7 linked regions of the Homo sapiens genome follow. The protein of the gene in region 2 purifies or fractionates together with the protein of the main gene of each other region. This does not show direct contact. Each region holds a gene or a part of one and is shown on either strand. Other genes may lie near its edges.

Evidence for each region.
Region 1: the proteins of SLC46A3 (region 2) and ABCA3 purify together in Homo sapiens (affinity purification with mass spectrometry; one large-scale study listed by BioGRID and IntAct). This does not show direct contact.
Region 3: the proteins of SLC46A3 (region 2) and ZC3H14 purify together in Homo sapiens (affinity purification with mass spectrometry; one large-scale study listed by BioGRID and IntAct). This does not show direct contact.
Region 4: the proteins of SLC46A3 (region 2) and RAB14 purify together in Homo sapiens (affinity purification with mass spectrometry; one large-scale study listed by BioGRID and IntAct). This does not show direct contact.
Region 5: the proteins of SLC46A3 (region 2) and MYO9B purify together in Homo sapiens (affinity purification with mass spectrometry; one large-scale study listed by BioGRID and IntAct). This does not show direct contact.
Region 6: the proteins of SLC46A3 (region 2) and RAB21 purify together in Homo sapiens (affinity purification with mass spectrometry; one large-scale study listed by BioGRID and IntAct). This does not show direct contact.
Region 7: the proteins of SLC46A3 (region 2) and RAB10 purify together in Homo sapiens (affinity purification with mass spectrometry; one large-scale study listed by BioGRID and IntAct). This does not show direct contact.

What each region holds. Positions count from the first base shown.
Region 1 is NC_000016.10:2,334,229-2,337,728, forward strand, and holds part of ABCA3 (phospholipid-transporting ATPase ABCA3), read right to left. Parts: intron 1-3,500. UniProt on the Homo sapiens protein: Catalyzes the ATP-dependent transport of phospholipids such as phosphatidylcholine and phosphoglycerol from the cytoplasm into the lumen side of lamellar bodies, in turn participates in the lamellar bodies biogenesis and homeostasis of pulmonary surfactant.
Region 2 is NC_000013.11:28,705,471-28,708,970, forward strand, and holds part of SLC46A3 (lysosomal proton-coupled steroid conjugate and bile acid symporter SLC46A3 isoform a precursor), read right to left. Parts: intron 2,163-3,500; exon of another isoform or gene 1,127-2,162; intron 1-1,126. UniProt on the Homo sapiens protein: Lysosomal proton-coupled steroid conjugate and bile acid transporter. Preferentially recognizes lipophilic steroid conjugates or bile acis as endogenous substrates and seems to mediate escape from lysosomes to the cytoplasm.
Region 3 is NC_000014.9:88,569,537-88,573,036, reverse strand, and holds part of ZC3H14 (zinc finger CCCH domain-containing protein 14), read right to left. Parts: intron 1,954-3,500; coding exon 1,913-1,953; intron 1,008-1,912; coding exon 812-1,007; intron 460-811; coding exon 30-459; intron 1-29. UniProt on the Homo sapiens protein: RNA-binding protein involved in the biogenesis of circular RNAs (circRNAs), which are produced by back-splicing circularization of pre-mRNAs.
Region 4 is NC_000009.12:121,191,870-121,195,369, forward strand, and holds part of RAB14 (ras-related protein Rab-14), read right to left. Parts: intron 1,551-3,500; 5' UTR 1,544-1,550; coding exon 1,492-1,543; intron 356-1,491; coding exon 302-355; intron 1-301.
Region 5 is NC_000019.10:17,208,277-17,211,776, reverse strand, and holds part of MYO9B (unconventional myosin-IXb), read right to left. Parts: intron 2,192-3,500; coding exon 2,068-2,191; intron 1,445-2,067; coding exon 1,397-1,444; intron 1,063-1,396; coding exon 929-1,062; intron 131-928; coding exon 3-130; coding exon of another isoform or gene 1-2. UniProt on the Homo sapiens protein: Myosins are actin-based motor molecules with ATPase activity. Unconventional myosins serve in intracellular movements. Binds actin with high affinity both in the absence and presence of ATP and its mechanochemical activity is inhibited by calcium ions.
Region 6 is NC_000012.12:71,778,863-71,782,362, reverse strand, and holds part of RAB21 (ras-related protein Rab-21), read right to left. Parts: intron 333-3,500; coding exon 278-332; intron 1-277. UniProt on the Homo sapiens protein: The small GTPases Rab are key regulators of intracellular membrane trafficking, from the formation of transport vesicles to their fusion with membranes.
Region 7 is NC_000002.12:26,107,084-26,110,583, forward strand, and holds part of RAB10 (ras-related protein Rab-10), read left to right. Parts: intron 1-2,684; coding exon 2,685-2,823; intron 2,824-3,500. UniProt on the Homo sapiens protein: The small GTPases Rab are key regulators of intracellular membrane trafficking, from the formation of transport vesicles to their fusion with membranes.

The sequences.
Region 1 (3,500 bases), on a different chromosome or scaffold from region 2:
CTGGAGACAGACTGTGTATGGGGAGCAGCGAGTCATTCCGAGTGGCAGTGCAGAGAATGAGCCAGGAAAGGCGCAGACCCTGGGCCCATGTCATCAAGGCGCTGGATGTTGCACCAAGAAGGGAGCTCGGGGTGTGTCCCAATGGGCAGTGATGCTGGGTGAGGGTGACTGGTTTTGTTTAATCCTTTATCTAGGACATTATCTTTTTTGAGAGACGGGTACACAGTAAATATTTGAAAATGTCTAATTCAATGGATCCTGTGGATGAAATGCCCAAACACCAGTAATTTTTTTTTTTTTTTTTGAGACGGCATCTCGCTCTATCACTCAGGCTGGAGTGCAGCCCGATCTTGGCTCAATGCAACCTCCGGCCCCCAGGTTCAAGTAAGTGATTCTCCTGCCTCAGCCTCCCAAGTAGCTGAGGAGTACAGATGCCCGCCACCACACCCAGCTAATTTTTTGTATTTTTAGTAGAGATGGAGTTTTGCTATGTTGGCCAGGCTGGTCTTGAACTCCTGAACTCAGGTGATCCACCTGCCTCAGCCTCCTGAAGTGCTAGGATCACAGGTGTGAGCCACCGTGCCAGACTTAAATATTAGTTCTTTTTTTTTTTTTTTGAGACGGAGTTTCACTCTTGTTGCCCAGGCTGGAGTGCAATGGCGTGATCTTGGCTCATGGCTACATCCACCTCCTGAGTTCAAGCGATTCTCCTGCCTCAGCGACCTGAGTGGCTGGGATTACAGGCACTCGCCACCACGCCCAGCTAATTTTTGTATTTTCAGTAGAGACGGGGTTTCACCATGTTGGCCAGGCTGGTCTCGAACTCCTGACCTCAAGTGATCTGCCTGCCTCTGCCTCCCAAAGTGCTGGGATTACAGGTGTAAGCCACTGTGCCCGGCCCTAAATATTATTAATATATAAAAAAAGCAGGCACATTTATAGAGTATGGTCCTCACCCCTTCCCAGTGGTCTCCAAATGGGGTGGGCTAGACAACCTGCAGCAGTGAAAAAGTGATGAAAAAATCTACTTGTAAGTATTTTTCTTTAAAAATGTGAAAAAAATGGCTTCACTGATTTGTTTGTTTGTTTGTTTGTTTCCTGTAGGGACAGGATCTCAGTCACACACAGTTATCCCGGCTGGAATGCAGTGGTGTGATCCTCCTGCCTCAGCCTCCTAAGTAGCTGGGACTACAGGCATGTACCACCACACCTGGCTTTTTTTTGTAGAGACGAGTCTCACTATGTTGCCCAGGCTGGTCTCAAACTCCTGGGCTCAAATGATCCTCTTGCCTCAGCCTCCCAAAGTGCTGGGACCACTGGCATGCGATACCACACCCTGCCAGCTTTACTGACATTTAATACTTGGACAGACCCTGGTGTTCACGCTGGCTTGTATGTCAGCAGCCGTGGCATCCTGACTGAGGAGGAGGCACCCTGTGATGTGGGGAGTGATGGTGGGCCCTCACCACAAGTCTACTTTAAGCATCCTAGGCGTGTTGGAGTTTACAAGTTTCAGAGCTTTCCAGTTGTGGTCAATTAAAACAAACAAACAAACCACAAAAACTCAAGACCCTTAAATAGCGAAAGCTTTACAATGCTTCGCAGTGATGTGGAAAATGACCATGAGTATCTTTTGTGTGACTTGGAGGTTTACTGGTCATTTCATGGCTTAGTATTTCAAAGAGTCAGAGAATTTAAGGAGAAGGTACAGATTTTCTTTTGTGAAAAGTTCCAAATCCGGAGACATTTTTTCGTTTTTAATGACAAATGACTGCAGCAGTGTGTCATCTACCTTTTTTCTTTTAAATAGACACAACGTAATCTGTCCCTTCAAAGAAAAAGTGACAGTATATGAGAGTTACAGCTTTTCAAAAAGAATCTGTACCAAGAATAGAGCATTTGTGAAAACAGACGTTTGAAGAGGTTTCCACAATTACGTGACTGCGTTCCCAATGATGCTACAAGCGTACTGTCTATATGAACATTTACACCCGCACACCAAAACATCTTCAACACCAGAATCTCCACCTACCCTGATAGCCCCTGAACATACCCAGCCCAAATTCATCAAGGGCCCTCAGATGATGGGTAAATGAAATTGAAAAACAAGTACCCTGCCTCGTAAGCACAGGGTCTGTGCCTTTCTCTGTATCATGTTAATGTGTAAATGCTGTTAATAACTAGGGCCTGAAATATACAGAACTTTTTTTTTTTTTTTTGAGACAGAGTTTCACTCTTGTTGCCCAGGCTGGAGTGCAAAGGTGCAATCTCGGCTCACTGCAACCTCTGCCTCCCAGGTTCAAGTGATTCTCCTGCCTCCGCCTCCTGAGTAGCTGGAATTACAGGTGCCCGCCACCACGCCCAGCTAATTTTTTTTTTTTTTTTTTTTTTTGTAGAGACGGGGTTTCACCATGTTGACCAGGCTGGTCTAGAACTCCTGACCTCAAGCAATCCACCCACCTCGGCCTCCCAAAGTGCTAGGATTACAGGCGTGAGCCACCTCGTCTGGCCAATAAACAGAACTTACAATTGATCTTAAATGCTGGGACTTAGGATTCAATGAGAGTTTATAAATGGGATGTGGACACATGGCTTTCATCTTTAAAAAGCATGTTTATACAATAGTTTTTGTAGCATTCATATGTTGGATAAATTTAATCATGTTTATTTCACCTCTCATCCTTTTTTTTTTTTCTCTGTTAGAGACAGGGTCTTGCTCTGTTTCCCAGGCTGCAGTGCAATGGCATCATTATAGCTCACTGCATTCTTGAATTCCCAGGCTCAAGCGATCCTCCCTCCTCAGCCTCCACAGTAGCTGGGACTTCAGGTGCACGCCACCATACCTGGCTATTTTTTTTTTTTTTTTAGTAGAGACAGGGTCTCACTATGTTGCCCAGACTGTTCTCAAACTCTTGGCCTTAAGGGATTGTCTCATCTCAGCCTCCCAAAGTGCTGGGTATACAGGTGTGAGCCACCATGTCTGTCTGGCCTTCGTCCCTTTAAAAGATCCAAATTTGTATATATTTCTATGTCCATAATACATCAGGACAGTAATTGTAATTTATAACACATAATATATATTGGGCTGCATGTTTACATTCATTCTTTTACACATAACAGTACACATGAAAAAAAAAGTCTGAGGCCTTTTTTTTTTTTTCATGCAGGGTCTCACTCTTTTGCCTAGGCTGGAGTATAGATAGTGGTGTGATCATGGCTCACTGTAGCCTTGACCTCCTGGCTCAAGTGATCCTCCCACCTCAGTCTCCCAAATAGCTGGGACCATGGGTGTGCACCACCATGCCCGGCTAATTGTTTGATTTTTTTTTTTTTTTTTTTAGAGATGGGATCTTGCCATGTTGCCCAGGCTGTTCTTCCAACTTGTGGCCTCAAGTGATCCTCCCGCCTTGGCCTCCCAAAGTGCCAAGATTACAGATGTGAATCACTTGCACTGGCCAAGGCCAATTTATAACCTCAGTGGCCCTTGTGGGGATGAGGTA
Region 2 (3,500 bases):
TATTCATTGAATGATAGGACAAACATTCATAAAACATACGTCTATCTCTGCAAAATATCGTGTGCTCACTTATGTGTCTTCTTTTGACTAAAATGAAAGCTTTGTCGATCTGCCTTGTACATCTGCCTTGCTCACAGCTGTATCCCTAGGGCTCAGCTGTCCGGGTGCATGGCAGACATTTAATAAATATTTGTCAAATGAATGAATCAAAGCTTAATTCAGGATCCCATTTACCAGTCATCAAGTAGCATGCAGACTTACTGCCTCCATGATTTATGATAATACATTAAGTCAGTTTAATTGGAAGGATGTTCTTCTACTTGTCTAACTACATTATTTTCTTTTATTTCTGATCTCTTTCTGCAGCCAGGAATAGTGCTATGGAAAACAGACTGCACAGTACTAGTTCTATTATGTAAGAGTTTTAATCTATTCTTGATGGGAAATAGGTCAGACACTGCACCATCTGTTCTGATGGAACCATACTATTATGAAGTAGCTTTAGCTTATTGCCCAACTTCTCTGAGCAGTTCGACTTGTTTAATAGTTGCCAGAGATAAAACAGGATTAAAGGATAAGTACAACTGAGTTCATCTTCTAAATTCTGTTTTTTTTTAATGCAATAGACCTCAAAAATCAAGTCTGTTTTACTGTCTCCCAATTTATAATAACAAGGAGTATATGGGTGATGCCCAGGTAAAATAGTCCAAGGCAGCTTCAGCTATGAGTTCACAGTGGTGCAGAGCGCAGAGATTGCAAAATAATTACCAGAATTCCACTTTCTTACCTTTCTTATTTAAGATAATAGAAATAATGAGAGCCAACTGAAAACTTCGGCAGTATTTCCCCACTCCTCTGATTATTTAAAGTGCCTAATATTTTCACAAAATGGCCAATTTAAATAATAATGAAGGATGCGAATACATTTAGTTATAGAAATGTTGACATCATCCAAAAGATTGTTTAGTTTGCAGTTAAGAACAAAGTAAGTATCCTAGAATAATGAAGTCACAATTCACAGTTACCGTAATTCAAAATAAGAAATGCCAAAATGTAAACATTTTAAAATATTACTATATTTAACAGTATGATATGACTTTTTTATTTTTATGTTTATTTTTCGTAGAGATAGAGCCTCCCTCTGTTGCCCACACTGCTTTTGAACTCCTGGTCTCAAGTGATCCTCCCACCTCGGCCTCCCAAAGTGCTGGGATTACAGATGTGAGCCACTGCACCTGGCGGAGATGACTTTTTAAAAGCCTTTATAAGGATATGAACAGACACTTCTCAAAAGAAGACATTTATGCAGCCAACAGACACATGAAAAAATGCTCATCATCACTGGCCATCAGAGAAATGCAAATCAAAACCACAATGAGATACCATCTCACACCAGTTAGAATGGCGATCATTAAAAAGTTAGGAAACAACAGGTGCTAGAGAGGATGTGGAGAAATAGGAACACTTTTACACTGTTGGTGGGACTGTAAACTAGTTCAACCATTGTGGAAGACAGTGTGGTGATTCCTCAAGGATCTAGAACTAGAAATACCATTTGACCCAGCAATCCCATTACTGGGTATATACCCAAAGGATTATAAAACATGCTGCTATAAAGGCACATGCACACGTATGTTTATTGTGGCACTGTTCACAATAGCAAAGACTTGGAACCAACCCAAATGTCCATCAATGATAGACTGGATTGAGAAAATGTGGCACATATACACCATGGAATACTATGCAGCCATACAAAAGGATGAGTTCATGTCCTTCGTAGGGACATGGATGAAGCTGGAAACCATCATTCTCAGCAAACCATCGCAAGAGCAAAAAACCAAACACCACATGTTCTCACTCACAGGTGGGAATTGAACAATGAGAACACTTGGACACAGGAAGGGGAACATCACACACCGGGGCCTGTCGTGGAGTGGGGGGAGGGAGGAGGGGGGAGGGATAGCATTAGGAGATATACCTAATGCTAAATGACGAGTTAATGGGTGCGGCACACCAACATGGCACATGTATACATATGTAACAAACCTGCACGTTGTGCACATGTACCCTAAAACTTAAAGTATAATAAAAAAAATTTTAAAAAGCCTTTATAAACTAAACCAAATATAAACAAAAATAAACTATACCTCTTGACAGCTCTATTTTAGCTCTAAGTCAAAGCAGGTAAATTTTTTTTCCCAATAGCTTTATTGGGATATAATTAACATCCCACAAACCTCACCCTTTTAAAGTCTGCAATTCAGTGGTTCTTAGTATGTTGCAGATTTGTGCAACCATCACCACTATCTGTGGAACATTTTCATCACCCCGAAAAGAAACTGTATACCCATAAGTAGTCATTCCCCTTCCCCAGCCCCAGTCAAGCCCTAATCAAATTTCTGTCTCTATGGATTTGCCTATTCTGCACATTTCACGTAAACAGAATCATATTTAAATGACAATATGTGGCCTTTTGTGACTAGCTTCTTAAATTTGGCATAATCATTTCATAGTTCATCCATGTTATGGCATGTAACAGAACGATATTTCTTTTTATTGCAGAAGAGCAGTTTGCTGGATGGATAAACCACATTTTGTTTACCCATTTGTCAGTTCATGAACATTTGCATAGGTTTCACTTTTTGGCTATTATGAATAATGCTGCCATGAACAAGATTTTATGTGGACATATGCTTTCACTTCTCATGGTATGTAAGTAGGGGAGGGATTGCTGAGTCATAAGGCAACTAACTTTCTGAGGAACTGCCAAACTGCTTTGTACAGCTGCTGCACCATTTTATGTTCCCACTCGCAGTGTATGAGGGCTCCAATTTCTCCACATCCTCATCAACACTTGCTATGGCCTATTTTATTTTGGCCACCCCAGCCCACTCTGTGGTTTTGCTTTGCATTTCCCTGATGGCTAATGATATCCAGCATTTTCATGCGCATATTGGTCACTTGTATATCTTCTATTCAAATCCTTTGCCCATTTTTAAATTGAGTTGTCTTTTTGTTGTTGAATTTTAAGAGTTCTTAAATATGCTGGATACGAGTTCCTGCTCAGACAAATATAATTTGCAAATATCTTCTCCCATTCTGTGGGTTGTCGGTTGTCATTTCACTTTCTTTCTTTTTCTTTTCTTTTTTTTTTTTTTTTTTGTATTTTTAGTAGAGACGGGGTTTCACCATGTTGGTCAGGCTGGTCTCAAACTCCTAACCTCGGGTCATCCACCCGCTTTGGCCTCCCAAAGTGCTGGGATTGCACATGTGAGCCACTGCGCCTGGCCTCACTTTCTTGATGTTGTCCTTTGAAACATAAAAATTTTTCAAAGGACAAACTTTGAATGAAGTTTTTGGATGAAGTCTAATCTATCAATTTTTCCTTTGTTCTTGTGCTTTTGGTGTCATATCTAAGAAACTATTGCATAGTCCAAAGAAGCAGATAGATTTTTACATAGTTTATATAAATTTTTCCATTTGTTATTGGTTTTCAAAGC
Region 3 (3,500 bases), on a different chromosome or scaffold from region 2:
TAAGCCAGAATTTAAAAGTACATACAAACCTCCATACTCATTTTCTCCGAGTTGTTTCTAAAGAACGGACTATACGTTTCTTCTAAGCTGTTAAGCACCTCTGGTTCACACAAACGTCCTGTTTCATATACCCAACTACTCTGCATATCAAGCTGCTTGGCAGCATGAATACTATTCTGCTGCTGTTGAAATTGCAACCTGTTTAAATGAACACCACTATCTGCATTTCTACTTGCAGGTGGTCGATAAATTTCAATAGAAGGGCGAGAAGAACCATATGTAAGTGTCACTGTAGGTTTTTTCTGAGATAAGGGATTCTCCTGCACAAAGTTGAGGTCTTCGTCAATGAGATCATCTGGTTCTGGCTTAATATCAATCACATCTTCAGAGGGTGCTGGCTCCCTCAAAGGTTTCACTGTTGACATTAGTCGGGTTGCAGCTCCATCATCGTAAGTCTGTCTATTTAAAAGAACAACAAAATGTATTACAGCCAAATTAGGGCAATTATCACCAAATCTTTAAAGAATGTTTACTTGAAAAATTTCAATGAAAAAACTGAGGATACTCCCTTTACATATTCCATTCAAAACTGCTTTGAAATTGCACTTTCTTTCAACTTTGATTTACTAAATTTGTGATAAAAGATAATCATACTTAGATCTTATCCATTATTTTATTCAAAAAACTACTCACGATCACTTCATTGTTTCTAAAAATTGCTGAGAACAGCAAACTGAAAGATATAAAAACTAATATAAATGTCACATACACAGAGCCATCTGCCCCCAGCAGGTCTACACCAGACTCTTACCTGACATTTGTGGTTTTTGACTCCTGCGAACTTGTAGAAACTCTGGAATCTCTTTTTTCAGGTCTCGCGCTAGGAATGGCAAGTGGTGGCACTGCAGCTTCATGCCTCCTCTCATCTCCCCGACTGAAATTGCTCTTGTTTGAAGGCACGTTACTATCAAAGATGTTGGTATCAGAAGACTTCAGACTAGAGGGTTCTGAAAAGAAAAATACAGTCCTTTTAATCTATTTTTATTTCTTATTTTTATTTATTTATTTATTTTTGAGATGGAGTCTCGCTCTGTCGCCAGGCTGGAGGGCAGTGGCGCGTTCTCGGCTCCCTGCAACCTCCAAATCCCTGGTTCAAGCGATTCTCCTGCCCCGGCCTCCCAAGTAGCTGGGATTACAGGCATGTGCCACGATGCCTGGCTAATTTTTGTATTTTTAGTAGAGACGGAGATTCACCATGTTGGTTGGCCAAGATGGTCTCCATCTCCTGAGCCCATGATCCGCCCACCTTGGCCTCCCAAAATGCTGGGATTACAGGCGTGAGCCACCGTGCCCGGCCATCTATTTTTATTACTTTAAGTCGTTTCCTTCCTCATCACCAATTCAAAAGCAGTATGTTTATTGTAGAAAATTTTAAAAATATAATAAAAATCACCAATTATCTCAAAGGTGATTTTTCGGGGGAAGAGCATATATACACATTTTTTAAAACATGTATCTTATGCGTGTATATTCTGTTATTCTTCCACAACATTATTTTTAATAGTTAAATATTATTCCACACATGGTAATACAACAATTTCGTTTATTATGACTGAACTTTTAAATTGTTTTCAATTATAAAATACTGAAATATCCTTGAGGCTAAATCTTTGCACATATATGTAATTATTTCCTTCGGATAAAGTGCACTGCTCCCTCTCCCACACTTAAATTATCTTTGAATTATGTTAAATTTACTGCTCTTAAGTTCATAAAAGTATGTGCTTTCTAAAAAAGTTCAAATGAACCGTTTTGAAATTGATGGGTTTTTCCCAAAGCACTATGACTTTAGAAAGAAACAAATCATATGCCATAGCAAGCAGAAATTAAAAAAAAAAGTTATGAATCTTACCAGTTGTAACAGAGCGAAGTTTATCTAATACACCATGAAGCCTGAGGAAAAAAACAAAAAACAAAAATAAACCTTCTGTTAAGAAAGATTTCATTTCAACTGTCACTCTAAATTTATGACATTATATTCAGAGATAATTTTTTAAATTTTTTTATATTTTTATTATTTTTAAATAGAGATGGGGTTTCACTGTGTTGTCCAGGCTGGTCTTGAAGTCCTGGACTTGAGAGAACCACCTGCCTCAGCCTCCCAAAGTGTTGAGATTACGGGCGTGAGCCACCGCACCTAGCTGAGATAAATACTGATAAACTGTATTTAGTGAATAAATGGTATGAACTTTCAAACTTCACATTTTTAAAAAAGGGCTTTGTATAAATCCTACAGAAGTCAATAAAAAATTGTATTTTTTTCTTCACTGTTTTCAACATCTAGCCTCTGCAAAAATATGGGAAAGAATATCATCTGACCAGTCTTAGTCTACAAAATATGTCACCCTGTTTGTAAGTACTAAAGATTTACTGTAGCTTACAGTAAAACAAGTATCATAAACATGTAATATTGCTTATTATTACCACCATTTAAGCAGCTTATATTAACTGCTTAAACTAGATGGTGTCTTGGACAACTTAATTCTGAGAGGTTAAAACAAGTTATAATCTCAAACTATGCTATATCATTTCACTCTATTACTTTCAAAACTGATGCTGTAAGGCTGTAATCTTGCTTGTAACATAACCTGTTTTGGTAGTTATAAATGAGGTACTTTGCCTTACATCCCTTCCCAGTACCTCTCAAAATATGCCAGAAACCTCATGTTTCAATGAGAACCCTAGTCACATGCTACTGTCCCCACGGACACAATTACTTCAAGGCTCCAAATAATCACAATAGTCTGTTTGGGGCTGGTGTTAATGAACACTAACTTAAGAAAGCAAAGTGCCAAAATGGGGACATCACCCTTTGCTTCACTACATGTTAAAGAACTCAATTTATGGCCAGATGAGAATGTTGAATTAATTTGGTTTTAAATTCATTTGGTAGTCTGTTTTAAAAATCTAAGTATTCTATCAAGTTATCGGAGAAAAGGATCTACTCGGTCGCTTTAGAAAAAAAAATAGTACTCACAATAATGGTAATTTTCCCAGTCAAAAGACCCACAGTCTTTTTTTGTGGGGGGCTGGGAGGGAATAACCTCTGGGGACAAATTGTAACAAATGGGTTGGGTCACCCACAGTGAGGCAGCAGTGTATCATAACAACTGATGACCACTATACAATGTTCTTCAAATTTGTGCAATGTATAAACCCAGAGAATTCTGTGCAGAATTTCAAGACGGTTGATAAGCATACAGTTGCCTACTTGGGCAAAAACACCTTGAAGACGACCTTTGGTATAAAGGCAAGAACTTAACCAGGCTCATCTCCCCACTCAGTGCCTCCTCTTGCACTCAAATTCGGCAGGCCACTTGCTCACTTCTGCTACATCATCACCTTTCACGGTAACTGGTAGTTCCTAGCCTGAGAAGCCTAATAAAGTATTTCGTCTGTCTATTCTCAGCTACATCATTATCCTCCAGCCCTCATCCTCA
Region 4 (3,500 bases), on a different chromosome or scaffold from region 2:
ATTCCTGTAACAGAAAGTCAGAGAATAAAAAGATTAAGTTTGACATTATTTTATGTATTTTTAAAAATTATTTTAACATCAAGAAATCAAAACAAGCAAATCAGATTATATAATGTGTATAAAAATCAACCCTAAAATATGCTGGCATATTTCATTTTATCTGTACCCATTTAAAAAAAGTACAAATATAGGGAAAGGTTATATTTAAATGCATGAAGTATACTGAAAATGACACTTTCTAAAAAGTAGAAACATGGCGATAAAGAAAACTATTAATGTTTACCTCATGTATTGAACTTACATTTTTTTTCTGTAAATTGATGAAGCAAGCAAGATTTTCCTACTCCCATGTCCCCTGTTTAAAAAAAAAGAAGTTTCAGGTGGCAATTACATTTCTCAATTTTATGCAATGATCGCTATATTCCTTACCATATAACATATCACAAGTTTCTGGGACACTTAACAAATTTTTATTTTCCTACTTTATAATGATTCAAAAGTTTTCACTGTGAGACACAAATGGAATATTATTCCCAATCTTTAGCAGTGACAGAATTTGGCTGTAAATTATTACTGTTAATAAATAGCCACCAGCTGGGAAGTGCTTATTTTTTTAATGGAATTTTTTTTACTTTGAGCTGTTTCAAAATTTTATGTTTTTGTTTTCTTTTGTTTTTTTCCTTAAACTCATGCATAAAAGCAACAAATTTCAAAAACTGACAAATGGGGTAGCATGTAACAAGCAGAAATAACAAACTGAGTTCTGGAAGCTTGATTCACTAGGTCCCTGTCTTATACTTCTTGTATTATTCTATGAAAGAAAAGAATTTGCATTACATGAAAACCCCAGGAGAAAAGATGTCATCTCTGACTGTACTATAGCAATGTTAACCCTTGATGAAGGAAACATTAGAAAGGACACATTAAGTTCAACATGAAAGCAAACTGTTCTAATGTGAACAATTCATTGAAAAACGTGTACTTTCAAATGTAGTTTTATGTTTGGATAAATAGCATTAAGACTTAATTTGAGCAAAACCTTCTTGAAACTTAAGGAAAAAAACACCAATTAAGAAAAATACTATATTTTATATATATTACACAATTGATTTGGAATCAAACAATATTCTCTACCAATTTTTCCTTATAACAGAAACCCAGGGGAATCTGAGAGCTTTCACAGTATTTTAGGAATGTTTCTGCACTCCTTGAAACACTGATACTTCCTAGCATCAAAAAGCTTTCAAGCAGCCCTCAAGAACAATGAACATCACTTCACAAGGTACCCACCAGCACTGTACCACAGAAATATCCATGGCCACAATGCAAAAGCTGCATTGCTAATGCAAAAATAAATCTTATAAAAGGAGTTTTAGTTTTACAGTAAGAAAATCACTCAGTCCTGAAGTGGTACTGTTTAAGTATTAACATATAAATATTTTGTATGTTAACCTTCTTTTGGGAACAAGAGTGTAAGTTAAATAAACTTACCAATAATAATATATTTAAAGATGTAAGAGTAGTTGTATGGTGCAGTTGCCATGGTGGCACTAAAAACAAAGAAATCTCTGTTACTTCAGAAGGAAAGCATATACAAGTAATTCAAACGGATGACTGATATCCTTTAAAGGTAGAAAAGGACACTGAATACAAACAAATGTTGGTTACAGTAAGTCAAAATAAAACTGCATTTCACAAACTGATCAAATACACAAATTCTCTTGGATGAATGATGCTTACACATTCTCATGTGCTATCCACAGAAATATAAGAAACCATTTATACCACAACTCCAATATTTCACTTAATATCCACTAGAACTTAAAAGTATAATTTAAAAAAAATCCAATAAGTATTAATCTGAAAATTGTCAAACAAAAAAATCTTTATAAATTTAAGTTAAACATCACTATAGTCTCTTCTCCCCTTAAAGTCCCCTTCCCTGTTAACTGATCAAGTAAGTTACTAATGATCTACTTGTTCAGAACTCTGATATTAAACAGAATGGTATATAAAGGAACCACTTAATTTATAAACACAAAACAACGTTTTTACTCTACTTTAAATCAACAGTTAGCAGCGCAAAGAGCAATCGTATGATTTCCAAATCAATGTTGGAACTAGACTGAATCACATGAAACTGTTCTTCCTATAGATTTTTCAAGTCAAAGTTTATTGGCATTTTCATATAGCTCAACCTAATACAGGACTTGCAGATTATCACTCACACACACACACACACACACACACACACACACACATTTTTTGAAGACCAGGCTGGTCTTGGGTCTTGAACTCCTGGCCTTAAGCGTCCCTCCCATCTCAGTCTCCCAAAGTGCTAGGATTACAGGCATGAGCCACTGTGCCCAGCCAGATTAACAACATAGTAAGTGCTTCCCATACACTATTCTAGGGACTGAAAGAAATAATGTCATAAAATTGTACTTATGGTTGCAAAATTTGAAAGCTTGTGTATTAGAAGATATTTCAAAAGATCACAGCCCATTTCTTACCCTCAAATAGACTTAACCTAAAGAATTCTAATTTCTCTTCTACTTAAAAAGAAAACAAAAAACTTTCCAATTTATTCAAATGAATTATCTGAATGTGTAAGACACGTGCTAGGTCCTAGAGAGAAACAAGGGGCTGAACTGTAAAACTGGTAATAACTTTCAATAAAGTTTATTCTCAAACCAGCTTTCAGCTTAAGACAAAAATTATTTATACATATAAAGATTTCACCCATTTAAAAAAATCTGACTTACAGTATTTTTAAGCCTGGCTTTTAGTGTTTCTGTCAATGTCACATTACACAAGCCAGACATTTAATATGACTGGAGAAATTTATTTACTGAAATTATCACCTTACTATATACCATATTTCAAGCAAAAGTTCTATATAACAACATTGAACCCGTAGAAAGAATATATATTTAAAACAAGTGTATTATTATAAGGGAAGAGGAAGTTGTTAATTACAGTAAAGTATTAATCACTTCCACACACTACAGTCTTCTCACTTAGCTATCTGTATTACATTTAGTGAAAGTAGAAGCCTTGTTACCCATTCCAGTTTGGCATGTTCTAACACATTTATAATCAGTCTCCTGCATCACAGAAAACTCCCTTAACCAGTTCTTTCAGGAAAGGGAGTTTTTCTAGTTAGATTAACTGATTCTGAACATCACAACAACTTTATTCCCTTTTCCAGGCACTAGGAACTCAAAACTTTTAAGAATGAACTTGGTCCTGAGACTAAAACTGGTCTGGATTATTTACCTGATCTCTGAACCAGATGCCAAACACAAGGGGGAAAAGTAATCTCTTACATTAAAAATATTTAAAGATTATTAACTTCTTAACTTGAATTCTTCCGACTCTTCTAATCAATTTTTAATTCTTCTAAATTCTTTCCCCATTCAAACCTGGGTAAAAGTAATCACTTAGTCACCTTCAAATTACTGTCTCTTCTGTGCTCTTCTCCCTTGATTTTCCTAATT
Region 5 (3,500 bases), on a different chromosome or scaffold from region 2:
ACCTTCCGAGGCCCCCCGCCCGGCCCGCTCCTCCAGCAGGCTCTCGGTGCTGGCCGACGTCTCCGAGTCCAGGTTCTCCTCGTCCGAGCCCCTTGGGTCCAGCTCCGGCAGCCGGTAGGTGATGTCCTCCCTGGAGGAAAAAGGGTAGTGGTGTCCAAGGCCACCCCACCGGAAGTGCTGGGCCAGTGTGGAACAGAGCAGGCTGTCCTGCTCCTAGATGTAACTCTGTGTCCCCAACCTCCCCCCACCCCAAGCAGGAGGATTGCTTGAGCCCAGGAGTTTGAACCCAGCCTGGGCAACATAGGCGGACCCTGTTCTGCAAAAAGTAAAAAAAATTAGCCAGGCGTGGTGGTGTGCACCACCTGTGGTTCCGGCTACTGGGGAGGCTGAGGTGGGAGGACCCCGTGAGCCTAGGGGATTGTGGCTGCAGTGAACCGTGATCGCACCACTGCAATCCAGCCTGGGTGACAGAGAAAGACCCTGTCTCAGAAATAAAGGCCGAGTGCGGTGGCTCACGCCTGTAATCCCAACACTTTGGGAGGCCAAGGTGGGTGGATCACTTGAGGTCAGGAGTTCAAGACCAGCCTGGCCAATGTGGTGAAACCCTGTCTCTATTAAAAACACAAAATTAGCAGGGCATGGTGGTGGGCACCTGTAATCCCAGCTACTCGGAGGCTGAGGCAGAGAATCGCTTGAACCCGGGAGATGGAGGTTGCAGTGAGCCGAGATAGCACCACTGCACTCCAGCTGGGCGACAGAGCGAGACGCCGTCTCAAAAAAAAAAAAAAAAAAAAAAAAAGTGTTGTTTGCCCAGTGTTAGGGATGACAGGACCAAACCTGGCGAGGTCAAGCGGACCACCAGGGATGGAACCTGCACTCCAGCTTGCCCTAAACATGAAGGACTGAGGGAGGGGACTGAGCCACTTGCTTCTCCTCCTTGATGGACTGGATCCGTTCAATGAGAATCTCCTTTTCCCGGTCCTCATCGCCGCCGGCTGCCTCCTCCTCCAGCAGCACCTCCAGCTCCTCCTCCTGGATGTCCCGGGTCTTGGGGCTCTTGTTCTGAAACAAAGAAGCAAGGGGTCCCACTGACATCTCTGAGTGGGCGAGGTTACTGCCGGAGGTGTGAGCAGATCCCAGGAGGTTAGTTGTGATGTGAGTGTGCTGGGCTCTTAGTGAGACTTCTCTAGGAATCCCATGGGACAGAGTGGTGGTCATGTGGCCGATTAGTCGTCCTGAGCACAGAAGGTCAGCAGGCAAGGGGCCTCCCCAGCATGCACTTCCGGAAGGTTAGGACAGGCTCTGTCTATCCTACGAGGGGCCCAGGGCCCCAGGGAACCCCAGCATGCACTGCACCGGGAGACATGCACCGCGGGCCCACCGAACGCGTACATACCAGGACCCCCTCATAGGGAGACGAAAACCCCAGTTTGAGAGGCCATGGCTGGGAGAGAGATGAACACAGGGTGACCACACGGGCCAAGACAGACACAGGCATGAGCTGGGGATACATCCAATGACCGGTACCAAGATAGGGGGTCCCTGGTTCCCACAGGAGCCCAGAGCCCGTTCCCCACTAACACACCCCTGCACTGTGGGGCTGATTCTTCTGCTATGGGAACATTTCCCCGTGGGTAGGGCCCAGGTCAGAAGGGACAAGGCTGGACGCATGACCTGAACCACCAGCAAGCAGGAAGCTGGTCCCCCTACCTGCCCCACCTAGAGGAACATAATTGGAGTGAGGCTGAGCGAGGACCATCGTCTTTCGTTCAAGGCAGTAAGTCTGCCCCTACCTGCAGGGCCTGGTGGCCCCAGCCAGGCTGGTTGTGGCCAAGGGTGTGGTAGGAGTGGGCGGGGAACTGGGAAGGGAGGCCCCGCCCTGCTACCCGAGACCACACCCACTACCCGGTCCCATCCTCGGCATGGGAGGTCCTGCCCACCCAAGGCCCCGCCCACCAAGACCCCACTCACCAGCCTTCCCAGCAACAAAGCCACGCCCAAGGCCCTGCCCAGCACCAGGCTCCGCCCCACCAAAGAGGTCCCGCCCCCACGATCACCGGTACTCACAGCATTTTGTCGCAGGAGCGAAAGCCTGCGGAAGGCGATACTCTCTGCAGCCTCCAGTTGGCTGATCTCCTCCATCTTCACTTTGTATTTCCTCATCTGCTCCTTGATCAGCATCTCCACGCACCTACAGAGAAGGCCCACGGGAGGAAGTGACTCAGTTACCGCCCCGGGGACGTCTGAGGTCCAGGGAGATGCTAGCTGGTGCCTGGGGGGCAGTGGTTGAGGCTCAGAGACCAAGCAGTGCCTGGGACACGGCTGTGCCAGCTCCCATGCAGTGTGACCTTCGGCAGCTCACTCTACCTCTTTGAGCCTGTCTCCTGTCTCTGCACGCCTCCTTGTTTGAAGGAGGGTCAGAGTGAACTGAACCCCTTAGTCACCAGTAGGGTGGGAATTATCCTGCCTCGCAGAGAAGTACAAGCTGCTGGGCAGTTTGTCCCAGGGGCAATAGGCAGATGGCCCCAGGGGCTCCAGACATGGGCTGACCCACAGTATGCCCACTTGGTGGTCAAGGCCAGCCTGGTGTTGTCAGTATCAGAGGGTCTCAGCTCGGAGTGGTCAGTGTCAGAGGGACTCAGCTTGGAGTGGTCATTATTGGGAGGAACTCAGCCTGGAGTGGTCAGTATCAGAGGGACCCAGCTTGGAGTGGTCAGAACCAGAGGGACTCAGCTTGGAGTGGTCAGAACCAGAGGGACTCAGCTTGGAGTGGTCAGTACCAGAGGGACTCAGCCCGGAGTGTTCAGTGCCAGAGGGACTCAGCCCTGAGTGGTCAGTACCAGAGGGACTCAGCCCGGAGTGGCCAGTACCAGAGGGACTCAGTCCGGAGTGGTCAGTACCAGAGGGACTCAGTCTGGAGTGGTCAGTACCAGAGGGACTCAGGTTGGGTGAGCTCTGTGGTGCGACCTGCAGGGGCTGCTGCTTGTTCCTTATCCTCCCGTGACAGGACGCTTTGTAGCAGAGAGAGGAATCCACTACCATTCACCTATCATCCAGCCTTTGTTAAAAGTTCTGTTTTAGGCTGGAAGCGGTGGCTCACGGCGGATCACAAGGTCAGGAGATCGAGAACATCCTGGCTAACATAGTGAAACCTCGTCTCTACTAAAAATACAAAAAATTAGCCGGGCGTGGTGGTGGACGCCTGTAGTCCCAGCTACTTGGGAGGCTGAGTCAGGAGAATGGCGTGAACCCGGGAGGCGGAGCTTGCAGTGAGCCGAGATCGTGCCACTGCACTCCAGCCTGGGAGACAGAGTGAGACTCCGTCTCAAAAAGAAAAAAAAAAGTTCTGTTTTAGTACAATGGGGTGTGCTCATTAAAGCACATTCAAAAAGACACAACTGCTGGGGCCACTGCCATCTGGATTTTTTTTTTTTTTTTGAGACGGAGTCTCGCTCTGTCGCCCAGGCTGGAGTGCAGTGGCGTGATCTCAGCTCACTGCA
Region 6 (3,500 bases), on a different chromosome or scaffold from region 2:
TTGGGACTCAAATACTTCAAAAGTTTTTCTGGCTTACTGCCTATTTGATCATGATAGTTTTGTTTTATATCACTCGTATTTTTCACTGAAGTCAAAAAGGGAAGTAAGGGCTTTATTGCCACAAGCCCAGAAATTACCATGTAAACATGCTTCACTGAATCCAACACCTCAATCCATGCTAAGAGATTTGAGTAATACCTAAATGGTAAAGCAAAACGTATAAAGAGGAAGATTTCTACTAGGGAGTGATGGGGAATGGGAGGGTCACAGTACTTACGACTCTGCTTCTTGAATGGAAACATGTCTCTCCTTTTCCAAGTCTATTTTATTACCTATTTTGAAAAAAGTAAATATTTATCTTTATACTGATTTATTTTCATAACAAAATTAAGCCAATTCTAAATATAAAATTGCCATTTTAATTACCAGCAAAAATAATGCAAATCCCCACCAGACTTCTAATGTCTTGAAATTATAAAGTTAAGCCTTGTGATCTGAGGGTTGATCATGCCTCATCCTCCTTCAAATGACTCAATTCATACCTTTCCTGAATCTGCAGCCTCTGACAAAGAAAACAACTTTTCCAAAGAGACAGGCACTCTTTTTTGATTTTGGGGGATACCAGAGACCTAGAGATAAACCTATGATTCTTAGGCAAGTGTAAATGATCAAAAGTAAGAGCAAAATTTTCTACAGTTCCCATTAACTTAGAGCCGGTCAATAAGTATGGCTATCTTAGTGTTTACTAAAATATATTAATCTAGCCTCTTGGATCCTACAAGTATTTTGGTTTCCTGGATGATATAAACCAGTTAAAGTAAAAATTAAAGTGTACAGATTTTTAAGTACTCCACAATCATAAGGGGAAAAACTGTATTCTCTTTTTTTTTTTTTTTGACGGAGTCTCGCTCTGTCACCCAGGCTGGAGTGCAGTGGCGCCATCTCGGCTCACTGCAAGCTCCGCCTCCCGGGTTCACGCCATTCTCCTGCCTCAGCCTCCTGAGTAGCTGGGACTACAGGTGCCTGCCACCACGCCTGGCTAATTTTTTGTATTTTTAGTAGAGATGGGGTTTCACTGTGTTAGCCAGGATGGTCTCGAACTCCTGACCTCGTGATCCGCCTGCCTCGGCCTCCCAAAGTGCTAGGATTACAGGCTTGAGCCACCGCGCCCGGCCGGAAAAACTGTATTCTTTGTTTAAAAAACAATTTTAGTGAGTTATTAAAACTTAATATATGTATATCATGCAGATTTAAATTATAAGTTTAGCTCTCCTTAAACAACAGAACCAAGCTGGGATTATACTTTTAAAAAAAGCCATCAGAACAAAAATGAAGAAACTGCAAAATACTGATTCCTTGAACTTAAGATGAGTTGGCTGGACACCCAGAGTGCTAAAGGTAATAAAAACAGTAGATAACGATAAGGAAAAATACCCTATGGAAGGACACTTCAAACAAACATTTTTATTCTTCTACTATGGCTTTTAGGGAGAAAAGAGAAATCTTATAAATAAGGTTACTTTTTTTCTTGGAACCATATAGATTCTAGGAGACAATTTCAGATAAATTTCAGATAAGGCATTGAAATAAGCACCCAATAAAAGATAAAATGTTTAGCACTGAGGTGGACAAGTCCAAAGGTTCTATATACTGAGGACCTCGAATAATCTGAGAACCTAGTTGCTGGCAACTGCAAGAAACTATCTGCCACCATAGCCTAAGAATCAGAGAGAGGGAAGCAGACAACACTAAAGCTCAGTGGATACCAACAAATTCAGTAACAAACTCTTCCTTCTTTGAACAGCTATCTACCACAGCAAGAAGTTTCATATTAGTTCTAACTTCCTACATTATATTTGTCATTGGAAATTTTAATTAGCTAAATATGACAATGTCTGACAGTAACCAGAGGAAAAACCGTCGTGTTATTCTGTAAAGAATGCAAAAAGCACCACCTGGTGGCCAGTGGCTCCAACAAACAGGAAAAAGATTCTGCCTCACAAAGGCAAAATAAGATAGTCTCCTACTAAAAGTAGCAATATTAATTTTGCTTCAATTACCTAAAACCCTATGGAATTTTTTTCTAGGTATTTAATGGCTCATGTTCCAAATTCCATCAATATCATCAATACCTATAAAAAGAGTGAAGAGAGGAAAAGCAGGCAATCACCTTACTGCCTCAAATGAACATTTAGGAGAAATAATTCAGACACTGCTTTATTATTTGATAATATTTTAAATGACTAATTTTAATAAATCAGGCCATTAATAAATAGCTATCTTAATAACCTATTATTTTAAACTTAAAATATTTTAAATCTAAATAACTATTATTTCTTTGAATAATCAGTGTTCACAATGGATTGACAGCACAGAATACATTGCAGAAACCTGACTGGCTAGTGACTGACCTCTTTCCAAAGCTCAAAAACCCTTTTAGTTTCTATATTTTTTCAAAAGCAAGACAGCTAAGGAGTAAGGCTTTGAGACTCATATCTGCTTCAATACTACTGTGCAGCTACATACGGAACTTTCTGATAGGCTTAAAACACCTGAAAACAAGGACAATAACCAAAGCAAGCACCTACTTAAAAGTATAGTACTATAAAGAATTAAAAACATAAACAAATAGGCTGACACTATTGGAAAGGGAGGGAAAAAGCTACCCTCTAAGTTAAGCAGATCTTCCTTAAAAATACATATTTGAATTAAGAACATAGAAGGGGCATGTCCACTGCTAAGGGCAAATGGCCTAATGATATAGAACTAGAATCATATTATGCTTAGACTGAATGGTTGTGGGGCACAGTGGAAAGAAGCTTTCAGAAAGCTTTTAAATGTGATAAAACTTGTTTTTAAGTCCTTGCTTACTCCATAACTGTAATTTTTTTTTTGTTTTACCTTTTTTTGAGACAGGGTCTTGCTCTGTCACTCAGGTTGGAATGCAGTGGCGTGAACACGGCTCTCTGCAGCCTCCACCTCCCGGGCTCAAGCGATTCTCCTGCCTCAGCCCCGAGTGGGACTACAGGCACACACCACCGCATCTGGCTAATTTTTGTATTTTTTTGTAGAGATGGGGTTTTGCCATGTTGCTAGGCTGGTCTCAAACTCCTGGACTCAAGCAGTCTGCCCACCTTGGTCTCCCTAAATGCTCGGATTAAAGGCCAGAGTCACCACGCCTGGCCATAACTGTAATATTTTGGACAAATTAGTTAACCTCTGTTAGTCTCACTGTACGCATGTGTCGCTAACAAACCTTGCAGGGTTGATGTGAAAATAAGATATATGTAAAAGGCCTAGCATATACTATATGCTCAATAAGGAACAGTTATTAATATTAATGACATTCATCACAGTGAATGATCAAATGGAAAGTCAATATTGTTGTAAGACAATTAAAGTCCATGACAGGTAATACAAACTTACTCCTGACCTCAAATGATCCGCCTGCTTCAGCCTCCCAAAGTGCTGGGATTACAGGGGTGAGCCACCACGCCTTG
Region 7 (3,500 bases), on a different chromosome or scaffold from region 2:
AAAAATATAAAAATTAGCTGCATGTGGTGGCACGTGCCTGTAATCTCAGCTATTCCAGAGGCTGAGGCAGGAGAATCTCTTGAACCTGGGAGGCGGAGGTTGCAGTGAGCCAAGATCGTGCCACTACACTCCAGCCTGGGCAACAGAGCGACACCCTGTTTCAAAAAAAAAAAAAAAAAAAAGACTAGGTGAAGAATTCTTAGACATAACACTAAACACATGATCTGTAAAAGAAAAAAAAATCAGTAAATTAATTAGACTTTCACAAAATTAAAAGCTTCCTCTCTACAAAATACCCTGTCAAGGGAATGAAAAGACTAGCTACAGACTTGGAGAAAATATTTACAAGCCAGTGTATCTGACAAAGGACTTCTGTATAAAAAGAACTTTCAAAAGTCAGCAGTAAAAAGACAAAAAAACTGACAATCCAGGCCAGCCACGGTGGCTCACGCCTGTAATCCCAGCACTTTGGGAGGCTGAGGCGGGCTGATCACCTGAGGTCAGGAGTTTGAGACGAGCCTGGCCAACATGGTGAAACCCCATTTCTACTAAAAATACAACCGTTGGCTGGGCGTGGTGGTGGGCGCCTGTGATCCCAGCTACTTGGGAGGCTGAGGCAGGAGAATCACTTGAACCCAGGAGGCAGAGGTTGCAGTGAGCCGAGACTGTGCCATTGCACTCCAGCCTGGGCGGCAAGATCGAAACTCTATCTCAAAAAAAAAACCCCAAAAACAAAAAACTAACAATCCAATTAGAAAATGGGCAAAAAAAAAAACCAGACATTTCACCAAAGAGGACATGTGGATGGCAAATAAACACATGAAAAAATGTTCACCATCTTAGCCACAGGGAAATACAGATTAATGTGATGATGAAATATTACTATGTGCCCTCTTAGAACTACAGAAATAAAAAAGTGACAGCATCAAATGCTGGTGAGGATGCAGAGAAACTGGATCTTTTATATGTTGCTAGTGCAAATGTCAAGTGATAGAGCCACTCTGGAAAAAGTTGGCCAGTTTCTTACCGTTATACACTTACCATATTACCCATAAATAACATTCCTGGGCATTTATTTCAAAGAAATGAAAAATTATGTCCACATAGAAACCTGTAAATGAATATTCTTCGAACTTTGTTATAGCCAAAAACTGGAAACAACCCTGAATGTCCTTCCATGGGTGAATAATTAAGCAAATTGTGATACAGACATACCATAGAATGCTACCCAGCAATGAAATGGGACAGACCAGGATTATGTGCAAAACTTGAGAGGACTTCAAGAGCATTATGGTGAAAGAAGTGTTAAATGCCGATTTCAAAAGGTAGCATACTACATGATTCCACTTACGTAACATTCTGGAAATGAAAAAAATATAAACATAGAAAACAGATTATTGATCAGAGTTTAGGGACTATGGGGAGTAAAGAGGTGATGTAATAGTTCTTTGTCTTGTGGTAGTTACACAAATCTGTACATGTAATAAATTGTAGAGAACTATATATACACACATACACAAATAAGTGCATGTAAAAAAAAAAAACCCTGAAATCTTAATAAGGTCTGTAGATTGTATCCAATGTCCATTTTCTGGTTTTGCTATTATGCTGCAGTAATATAAGATGTTATCATTAGGAAAAGCTGGGTGAAAGGTACCCAGGACCTCTCTGCACAGTTTTGTAACTTCCTGTAAGGCTGTAATTATTTCAAAATAAAAGTTTTAAAAATATTAACTCGAAAGAGGAGCAGGGATAGTTGGAGAGATACAGGGTTGAGATTGGGGTCTTTTGCTTTATATTTATTTATTTATTTATTTATTTATTTATTTATTTATTTATTTATTTTGAGACGGAGTCTCGCTCTGTCACCCAAGCTGGAGTGTAGTGGCACCATCTTGGCTCACTGCAACCTGTGCCTCCTGTGTTCAAGCAGTTCTCTTACCTCAGCCTCCCGAGCAGGTGGGATTACAGGCACGTGCCACCATGCCGGGCTAATTTTTGTATTTTTAGTAGAGATGGGGTTTCACCATGTTGGCCAAGTGTCTTGAACTCCTGACCTTAAGTGATCTACACGCCTCAGCCTCCCGAAGGGCTGGGATTACAAGTGTGAGCCACTGCGCCCGACCTTATTTTTGCTTTTTTAAAAAAGATACTAAAACATGTTTGTAAGCTGATGAGATGATCCATAAAAGAGCAAAATGATGATACAAATGAGAGGGCATAGTTACAGGAGCAAAATACATCTTACACCTTTGGCTTTAAGCATTAAATAATGGAAAATACTACTATTTACATTTCTGTCTTATTATTTATAAGTGAGGTTATCTTTACAACTTTTGGTTAATGATTCTAAATGTAAATATGACTGTACTATGGTATAGTTCTCTAATGTTCTAAAAATCCTACCTGCTTTTGTGTTACATTATGGAACTAAATTATTAAATAAAATGAAATTTTAAGAGTTTCTATGGTGTTTGCTAGTGCTTATTCAATAAACTTGAGTTTTATGTGTCACTTCCTACTGTTTTCCCTTTCAGATTTTCATCCAGTATGGGTAGGTTATTAATTTCCTTCAACTAAAAAGTTTTTATATATACTTAGGAAAAACTATTCTTGTTTTGTCCTTTATGTGAAATGTAGTAATATCAAAATGCTTAATAGAAATTATTGGCTGTTTATTTCAGGGATACAGCAGGCCAGGAGCGATTTCACACCATCACAACCTCCTACTACAGAGGCGCAATGGGTATCATGCTAGTATATGACATCACCAATGGTAAAAGTTTTGAAAACATCAGCAAATGGCTTAGAAACATAGATGAGGTAAGACCTAGAACTTGTATAAACCCTTCATGAACACACATTTGTGTGCTTGGTTAGGAAGAATAAATATTCCAACTGATCTTCAGGATATAATGTACTGTTGAAGTCATTATTATTGAAGTATTTCTATTTTCTAAAAGTTAATGTTGGCCGGGCATGGTGGCTCATGCCTGTAATCCCAGCACTTTGGGAGGCTGAGGTGGGAGGATCACCTGAGGTCAGGAGCTAAAGACCAGCCTGGCCAACATGGTGAAACCCCATCACTACTAAAAATTATAAAAATCAGCTGGGTGTGGTGATGTGCACCTGTCGTCCCAGCTACTCAAGAGTCCAAGGCAGGAGAATCTCTTGAACCTGGGAGGTAGAGGTTGCAATGAGCCAAGATTGCGCCACTGCACTCCAGCCTGGGCAACAGAGCAAGACTCCGTCTCCAAAAAAAAAAAAAAAAAAGTTAATGTTGTTATTTGCTAATTTTTTCTTAAGTTTTTGGACAGTCTATCTAGAGCCCCATTCAAGACAATTAGTAAATTACTCCAAAACTCTGTATAGCCATCTTACAAGATGACCCCAAATAGAAGCTACCAGTGATTTTACAATGATTTTCTGGAAATGAATTTTTTCTTAATAAATTTTTATTGAATGAATGAAATGTCCGGTAGTAATTTTTTAAAACTTTA